2 separate regions of the Homo sapiens genome follow, and region 1 is linked to region 2. The links come from fine-mapping of genetic effects on gene expression. Tissue or cell type: subcutaneous fat. Region 2 holds a variant in brackets; the other region holds the start of a gene. All regions are shown on one strand. Distances are from middle to middle.

Region 1 (4,154 bases), 58 kb after region 2:
ATGGAGTTGCACTCTGTAGCCCAGGCTGGAGTGCAATGGCACGATCTCGGCTCATTGCAATCTCTGCCTCCTGGGGTCAAGTGATTCTCCTGCCTCAGCCTCCCAAGTAGCTGGGATTACAGGCATGTGCCACCACGCCCAGCTAATTTTTGTGTTTTTAGTAGAAACAGGGTTTCACCATGTTGGTCAGACTGGTCTCAAACTCCTGACCTCAGGTGATCTGCCTGGCTCGGCCTCCCAAAGTGCTAGGATTACAGGCGTGAGCCACCATGCCTGGCCTTTATTAGTATTTTTTAAGAGAGGTTCCTTCACCCAGGCTGGCTGGAGTGCAGTGGCGCTATCATACCTCACTGCACCCTCCAACTTCTGGGCTCAAGTGATTCTCTTGAATGGGAGGATGAGCATGCCACCACGCCCAGCTAATGTTTTTATCTTCTGTCGAGATGGGGTCTCATAATGTTGCCCAGGCTGCTTTCAAACACCTGGCCTCAAGCGATCCTCCCACCTTAGCCTTCCAAAGGGTTGGGATCACAGGCATGTGCCACTGCGACCAGCCAGGATAATAATCTTTCATGTGATTTTCCGACTTTAAGCCCCCTGCACCCAGAGACCTTTCTGTCTCATGCCTGAAGGGAAGGAACTGGCCACGGAAAAACCTGGGAAATTCCTGGGGGAACTCCCTGAGGCAAGACTGCGCCTGGCAATTTGTAAGAAGGGGGCTGGTGCGACCTGAGCAGAGAGCTAATGGGAGGGTGAGGGAAGCCAAGGGAGATGGGGTGGGAGGTGGGAGGAGTCTTGCGGGACAATGGGAACCCAGGGGAGGCGTTAGAGCAGGGGAGGTGCATCGCGCACTGGGATTTAGGTCCCAGCAAGGTCGCTGGGGGGATGCCTTTTAGGGAATGGACTCTGTGGTCAACTACTCCTACCTGAACTGCCCCCAAAGCATTTGCTTTTCCCTCTCCACAGTCAGGACCAGTGTAACCTTAGACCCCTAATACTGCCATTTTTACTGTTGAGAACACCGAGAAGTAGTAAATGCAGAAAATCTAAAGTATAGTGCCTAAGACAAATTGGCGCCTCAAACCTAATTTCTAAATAAAATTAATAAATAATATTGCAGAAGTGGGGAGCAGGTCAGCAATCCAGGAAGAGGCACTGGCAGGAGCAAGAGACGGAATTTGAGCCTACTCGCGGTTATGAGCCTACTCGCGGTTACATTTTGGCCAAACTCAATTCCTGGTCTCTCTGAGCCTCGGTTTCCCTACCTGGACTGCGCGGTGTGTGTTAATTTCTCTGCCCCATTTATCTCCCCTCTCCTAGCCCCGCCCCAGCGTCACCAGTGGGACGCAGAGACTCAGGACTAGGAAAGCACTTTTAAAGCGTTAAGGGATTGCGAAGAGCTACGGAGAGGCTTCCTCAGGGCTATACTGGGTCCACCTCCCCTCATGGACCGCGGGCGCGCTCTGGCGGCCGGGCCGCTCCAGGCTGAAGCCGCCGGACCACGTGTGTAGTCGCAGCTGCCATCTTTCATCCGGGCATCGGCCATCTTGGTAAAGGCAATGTTCTAGATTTTCGCCTCTGCCCGCCCCTCCTGGTTCATCAACATATTAAATGAGCGTAGGGAATGAGGGCGTATTAAGTGTCCTCTTTTTGAAGAGACAAAGAAGTGGCTGACTACCCTGGCTTGGGTCCGAGGCCCAGCCATCTTTTTCTTTACCAAAATGGCGGCGGTACTGAGGCGCAATGAGTGCGCGCCGCCAGGAGCTCAGCGCGCAGGCCCCATGATGACGTCACGGAGGCGCGACCGGGCCGGCGCTGGGGTAAGAAGGTAGGAGCGTCTGCGGCGCGGGCGGAACCCGGGTTCGGGGAGCAGAGGCGCGGGGCGGGGGCTGCTTGGCCTGGGACCATCCCCTGGGAAGGCTGGAGGAGGGGTGCTGGGAGGCAGGAGCACTTCTGGCGTCCAGTCTGAACCGCACCTAGTTGGGGGCGATGCCCATTTCCAGACTAGACGATTGAAGCCCGACGCGACAGCATGTTCGAGGCCACCTGGCCCCGGACTGCCCCTAGGCAGCTTCTGGTCTCGAGAGGGACAGAGTTGGGCGCGGACTCCCCCGGCCTCTTGTAGGGGGATTAGTGGTGGGGGACTTCAAAAGGGATAGCCGGGAGGGCTGCTTAGAGGAGGCATTGTTGAATTTTGTATTCTGTTATTTTACCTTCACATCCGTGGGGTCTTAATCCCCATGGGTCTTGATTCGCTTCTAAGTGTGCCCCTCGCCCAGCCTGAGCCACTCCCTGGGTACCGCCTGGGCTCCCAGCTCCTGCCATCTGGGGAGTCCACCTCCTCACTAACCCCAGAGGGCTTGTGTGACCCATAGATTGGGCTTCCCGGCTCTAACGCCCTCCACACCTTCCCATCTCCCTGGAATACAAATCGCCCCCTTTTCCAGCCTACCTCCTGCATCCCGCGTGCAGGCTGCGCTCTCCCCCACTCATTCAGACTTTTCCTTAGATGTCTCCTTTAGGAAGCCCTTTGACCCAGGCTGGGTCAGAAGCCCTCTCCGGGCTTCCCCGGCGCCCTGCGTGTCCTTATTAGGACTCTGATTGCATGTGTTGGCTCTTCTCTGGGAGTCCCATGCAGGCAGAAAGCTCATTTGTGCCACCTCTTTCCCCAGCATCGCACACGTATTAGGTGCCCAGTACATATTTATTGAATGACGTGTGCAAGTGAGTGAGTGTTTACTACACAGAGAAAAGTGTCTGTATTTCCAGCTTGGGCTGTCATAACTAATACCACAGACTGGGTGGCTTAAACAGCAGAAATTGCCAGGCACTGTGGCTCACACCTGTAATCCAGGCACTTTGAGAGGCCGAGGCAAGCGGATCACTTGAGGTCAAGAGTTTGAGACCAGCCTGGCCAACATAGTGAAACCCCGTCTCTACTAAAAATACAAAAATCAGATAGGCATGGTGGCACATGCCAACATGGTGAAACCCCATCTCTATAAAAATACAAAAATTAGCCGGGCGTGGTGGCAGGTGCCTGTAATCCTAGCTGCTTGGGAGGCTGAAACAGGAGAATTGCTTGAACCGGGTGGGTGGAGGTTGCAGTGAGCCGAGATTGTGCCACTGCATTCCAGCCTGGGTGAAAGAGCAAAACTCCGTCTCAAAACAAAAAAAAGCCCCAACGTGGAAACAGCCCAAATGTCTAGCTGTGGACAATGGATAAACAAAATGTGGCGTATCCATGCAGTGGAGGAATATTCAGCCATAAAAAGGAACGAAGGGCCAGGCGCAGTGGCTCAGGCCTGTAATCCCAGCACTTTGGAAGGCCGAGGCGGGAGGATCACTTGAGCCCAGGAGTTCAAGGCCAGCCTGGGCAACATAGTCAGACCCTGCCTTAAAAAAAAAAAAAAAAAGCTAGGCATGGTGGCCTGCACCTATAGTCCCAGCTACTTAGGAGGCTCAGGTGGGAGGATCACTTGAGCCCAGGAGGTCAAGGCTGCAGTAAGCCGAGATTTCGCCACTGCACTCCAGCCTGGGCGACAGAGTGAGACCCTGTCTCCAAAATAAATAAATAAATGTACTCTCACACTGTGTGGCCTTTTGTGTCTGGCTTCTTTCACTTAGTATTGTGTTGTTGAGGTTCAACCACATTGTATCATGTATGTATTGGTGCCTTGTTTCCTTGTTTCCTTTTTTTTTTTTTCTTTTAAGAGACAGGGTCTTGTTCTGTTGCCCAGGCTGGAGTGCAGTGGCACAATCATAGCTCACTGTGGCCTCAGCCTCCTACGCTCAGGCGATCCTTCCACCTCAGCCTCCTAAGTAGCTGGAACTACAGGCACAAGCCACTGTGCCTAATTATTTTTTATTTTGTAGAGACGGACTCTTGCTATGTTGCCCAGGCTGGTCTTGAACTCCTGGCCTCAAGCAATCCTCCTGCCTCAGCCTCCCAAAGCACGGGGATTACAAACGTGAGTGATCGCACCCGGCCTGTGATTCCATTGATATGGACTGAAATGTCCAGAACAGGGAAAGCCACAGAGACAGAAAGCAGATTGATGGTTACCAGGGGCTAGGGGAAGAGGAATAGGGAGTGACTGCTGATGGTGATGTGGCCTCTTTTGGGGGGTGCAAGTGTTCTGGAACTAGACAGA
Region 2 (4,154 bases):
CTAACATGGTGAAACCCCGTCTTTACTAAAAATACAAAAATTAGCCGGGCATGGTCGCGCGCGCCTGTAATCCCAGCTACTCAGGAGGCTGAGGCAGAAGAATTGCTTGAACCTGGGAGGCGGAGGTTGCAGTGAGCCGAGATCGTGCCAGTGCACCCTAGCCTGGGCGACAGAGCGAGACTCCGTCCCCCCTCCCCCCCAAAAAAATCGTGACAGGTATATCCTAGGCGGCCAACACCATTGGCCCGGGGCACTGTCTACACTGTGCGCTTGCGGGCCACGTCGGTGTCTGCTGAGCGGTGGCTGCTCCAGGAGCCCGCGCCCGTCAGGCGCAAGTGGGAGGGCGCGTGCACACGCATGGACCAGTCCTCCAGGTCCACGGGGTACGCACAGGCACGGGATGGCACCTGTGCACGGGTGTGTGCGTGCGGCGGGGCCCCCACGTGCAAGAATCTGGCGGGCGCGGTTGGCTTCCGGAGGGAGGGGCCCACCTAGAGAGCAGACCAGGGACCCGAGAGGCCTCGGCTCCTGGGTAAGGACTGTCCAGGTGACCTCGAGTCCCTCCTTGCAGTACCTGGAGATGCGCTTCAGCCGCGCAGTGCGGCTCTGCGGGACTTTGCAGTACATTGTAGCCACGGTGAGTGGCCTCGGCCCCGCCCTCCGCTCAGGGCCCCGAGAGCGTCAGCCTTCACTAGCCCGGCCCCCACCATTCAAGACCCCGCCCAGACCCCGCCCCCCATGCTCCCGTTCTGACCCCGCCCCCATCAGTCCCCTCCCACACCACAGCCGGCCTGACCCCGCCTGCACTCTGGAAGACCCGGCCTATCTGCCCCGCCCATATTCTGGGACCACCCTTCTGCCTCCTCTCCCCATCCCCAACTCGCCCAGACGCCCTCCCTGCTCACCCGCCCCACACTCTGTCTACAGATGCTGTACACCGGCATCGTAATCTACGCACCGGCCCTCATCCTGAACCAAGGTGTGACTCTGGGAGATTAGGGAAGCATGTCTGGGAAGAGAAAGGGAGGGAGAGGAGAACCCAAGACTAAGTTTGCGCCCCGCCCAGGGGCCTAACAGGGGGACCTCTTTTTGCATAGTGACCGGGCTGGACATCTGGGCGTCGCTCCTGTCCACCGGAATTATCTGCACCTTCTACACGGCTGTGGTGAGTGGCCCTGGGAACTCACTCCATACGGGGGATCGGGCCCACTGTGTCTCTTGTGGGGAGACTCTGGGCTTGCCCCTTTCTCCTGAGGAAGCCTCTGTCCCAGCTGGGACCCAGTGTCCTCATCTTTATAGTGAAAAATGATCTGAAAAGCTTATTGCTGAGAATCTAGAGGTATGGTAGCTTCAGGCATGGCTGGATCCAGGCTTCCACCTCTTCTGGCTTCCAGTCCAGCAGGAAGTGAGCTCCTGCTTCATCCTGGGGCTGGCTGAGGTCCCAGGGAGGGCTACCTTTGGCTGGCTCAGGTCTGACCTTGATGGCGATATTATCATCGTAGTGATAATAATAGTAATGGCGGCCGGGCGCGGTGGCTCACGTCTGTAATCCCAGCACTTTGGGAAGCAGAGGCAGGCGGATCACCTAAGGTCAGGAGTTCGAGACCAGCCTGGCCAACATGATGAAACCCCGTCTCTACTAAGAATACAAAAATTACCTGGGCGCAGTGGCACGCGCCTGTAATCCTAGCCTCTCAGGAGGCTGAGGCAGGAGAATCGCTTGAACCCGGGAGGTGGAGGTTGCGGTGCGTGGAGATTGCGCCATTGCACTCCAGCCTGGGCGACAGAGCAAGACTCCATCTCAAAAAAATATAATAATAATAATAATAATAGTAATGGCAGCAATCACTCACTGACACTCGTATATGTCAAGTCATATTCCAAATCTTTTTCACTTATTAACTTGTTTAATTCTACTGGGCACAGTGGCTCATACCTGTAATCCCAGCACTTTGAGAGGCCAAGGTAGGAGGATCACTTGAGGCCAGGGGTTCGAGACCAGCCTAGGCAACATAGTGAGACCCCCCCCCGCCCCCATCTCTACAAAAAAAATTTTTTTTAAATTAGTCGGGCATGGTGGCACCTGCTGTAGCTCCAGCTACTCCGGAGGCTGAGGCAGGAGGATCACTTGAGCCTAAGAGTTCCAGTCTGCAGTGAGCTGTGATCACACCACTGCACTCCAGC[C/T]TGGGCAAAAGACAGAAACCTTTTCTTTAAAAATAAAATAACTAACTTAATTCTTACAACAACACAGTAAGAAGGTATTATTATTAATCCCACTTTAGAGAGGAGGAGACTGAGGCATAGAAGGGCATCAGTCCTAGGCACCACTGAAGGCCAGGTCCCCCATCTAACCGCCCCTCTCCCTCTCTCTGTCCCATGCTGCAGGGCGGCATGAAGGCTGTGGTCTGGACTGATGTGTTCCAGGTCGTGGTGATGCTAAGTGGCTTCTGGGTTGTCCTGGCACGCGGTGTCATGCTTGTGGGCGGGCCCCGCCAGGTGCTCACGCTGGCCCAGAACCACTCCCGGATCAACCTCATGGAGTGAGTGAAAATGCAGAGGATACTCCAGCAGGATGGGGCTGGGACCAGTGCGGTGGCTCATGCCTGTAATCCCAGCACTTTGGGAGGCCGAGGCGGGCAGATCACTTGAGCTCAGGAGTTCAAGACCAGCCTGGGCAACATGGTGAAAACCCATCTCTACAAAAATACAAAAATTAGCTGGGCGTGGTGGTGCACCTGTGGTCCCAGGTAGTTGAGAGGCTGAGGCTGGAGGATTGCTTGAGCCCGGTAGGTGGAGGCTGCAGCAAGCTGAGATCACACTACTGCACTCCAGCCTGGATGACAGAGCTAGACCCTGTCTCAAAAAAAAAAAAAAAAAGAGGCTGGGTGCAGTGGTTCATGCCTGTAATCCCAGCACTTTGGGAGGCCAAGGCGGGGGGATCACCTGAGGTCAGGAATTTGAGACCAGCATGACCGACATCGAGAAACCCCATCTCTACTAAAAAATACAAAATTAGGCTGGGCGCGGTGGCTCACGCCTGTAATCCCAGCACTTTGGGAGGCCAAGGATGGCAGATCATGAGGTCAAGAGATTGAGACCATCCTGGCCAACTTGATGAAAGTCCGTCTTTACTAAAAATACAAAAATTAGCTGGGCATGCTGGCAGGCGCCTGTAATCCCAGCTACTCAGGAGGCTGAGGCAGGAGAATTGCTTGAACCCAGGAGGCAGAGGTTGCAGTGAGCCGAGATGGCATCACTGCACTCCCGCCTGGTGACAGAGAGAGACTCCGTCCCCCCCCTAAAAAAAAAAAAAATTAGCAGGGCGTGGTGGCGCATGCCTGTAATTCCAGCTACTCGGGGAGGCTGAGGCAGGAGAATCGCTTGAACCCAGGAGGCGGAGGCTGCGGTGAGCCGAGATCACACCATTGCACTCCAGCCTGGGCAACAAGAGCGAAACTCCATCTTTAAAAAAAAAAAAAGAGGATGGGGCTGGGCTCCCTTTGTGCCGTGGGATGGTAGAAATCAGCCAATGCCTCCTGCTCCAGGAGGCCCTCGCTGCTCTCTTCTCCTCCCCTCAGACCAGATTGGGGGCTAAAGCCTCTCTGAACTCTCAGCTGGGCAAAGAAAGGTTTTTAAGTGCGTGGATAGATGATTCAGTAAACAAATACGTGAATTTTCAATCTGGCAAATGCCTATGCATATGTCAAACCCACTCCATTTATTATTTATTTATTTTTAATTTAATTAATTTTTTTTTTTTTGAGATGGAGTCTCGCTCTGTCACCCAGGCTGGAGTGCAATGGCACGATCTCAGCTCACTGCAACCTCCGCCTCCTGGGTTGAAGTGATTCTCCTGCCTCAGCCTCCCAAGTAGCTGGGATTAGAGGCACCCGCCATTATTCCCAGCTAATTTTTGTATTTTTATAGAGATGGGGTTTCACCATGTTGGCCAGGCTGGCCTTGAACTGTGACCTCAGGTGATCCATCCGCCTTGGCCTCCCAAAGTGCTGGGATTACAGGCATGAGCCACTGCGCCTGGCCAACAAAACCCACTCCAAATGTCCCCTATAAGGTCCAGAAGCGCTGTCTGGGGCCCTTGGGAGGGTGAAGTCAGCGTGACATCTCCACGTGGCTAACTTGCCCTGTCCCCACCC

Evidence for each region. PIP is the estimated chance that this variant, and not a neighbour inherited with it, causes the effect. A credible set is the group of variants that fine-mapping cannot tell apart.
Region 1: CCDC124 starts here. The variant in region 2 is the best candidate, but not a certain one, in a credible set for the expression of CCDC124 in subcutaneous fat (GTEx, PIP 0.73).

The regions. Positions count from the first base shown.
Region 1 is chr19:17,931,221-17,935,374 of GRCh38, forward strand. CCDC124 (coiled-coil domain containing 124) reads left to right here and starts at 1,795. Exons shown (of 5, transcript NM_001136203.2): 1 at 1,795-1,828. RefSeq lists enhancers at 873-1,411, 1,558-1,617, 1,638-1,827 and a silencer at 1,908-1,957.
Region 2 is chr19:17,873,567-17,877,720 of GRCh38, forward strand. It overlaps SLC5A5 (solute carrier family 5 member 5), which reads left to right. Exons shown (of 15, transcript NM_000453.3): 2 at 572-637; 3 at 928-979; 4 at 1,098-1,165; 5 at 2,386-2,540. Among named protein-coding and RNA genes, the nearest start is that of SLC5A5, 3.7 kb to the left of the region's middle. RefSeq lists an enhancer at 149-921 and a silencer at 714-843. The variant C/T (reference allele first, on the strand shown) is at 2,185.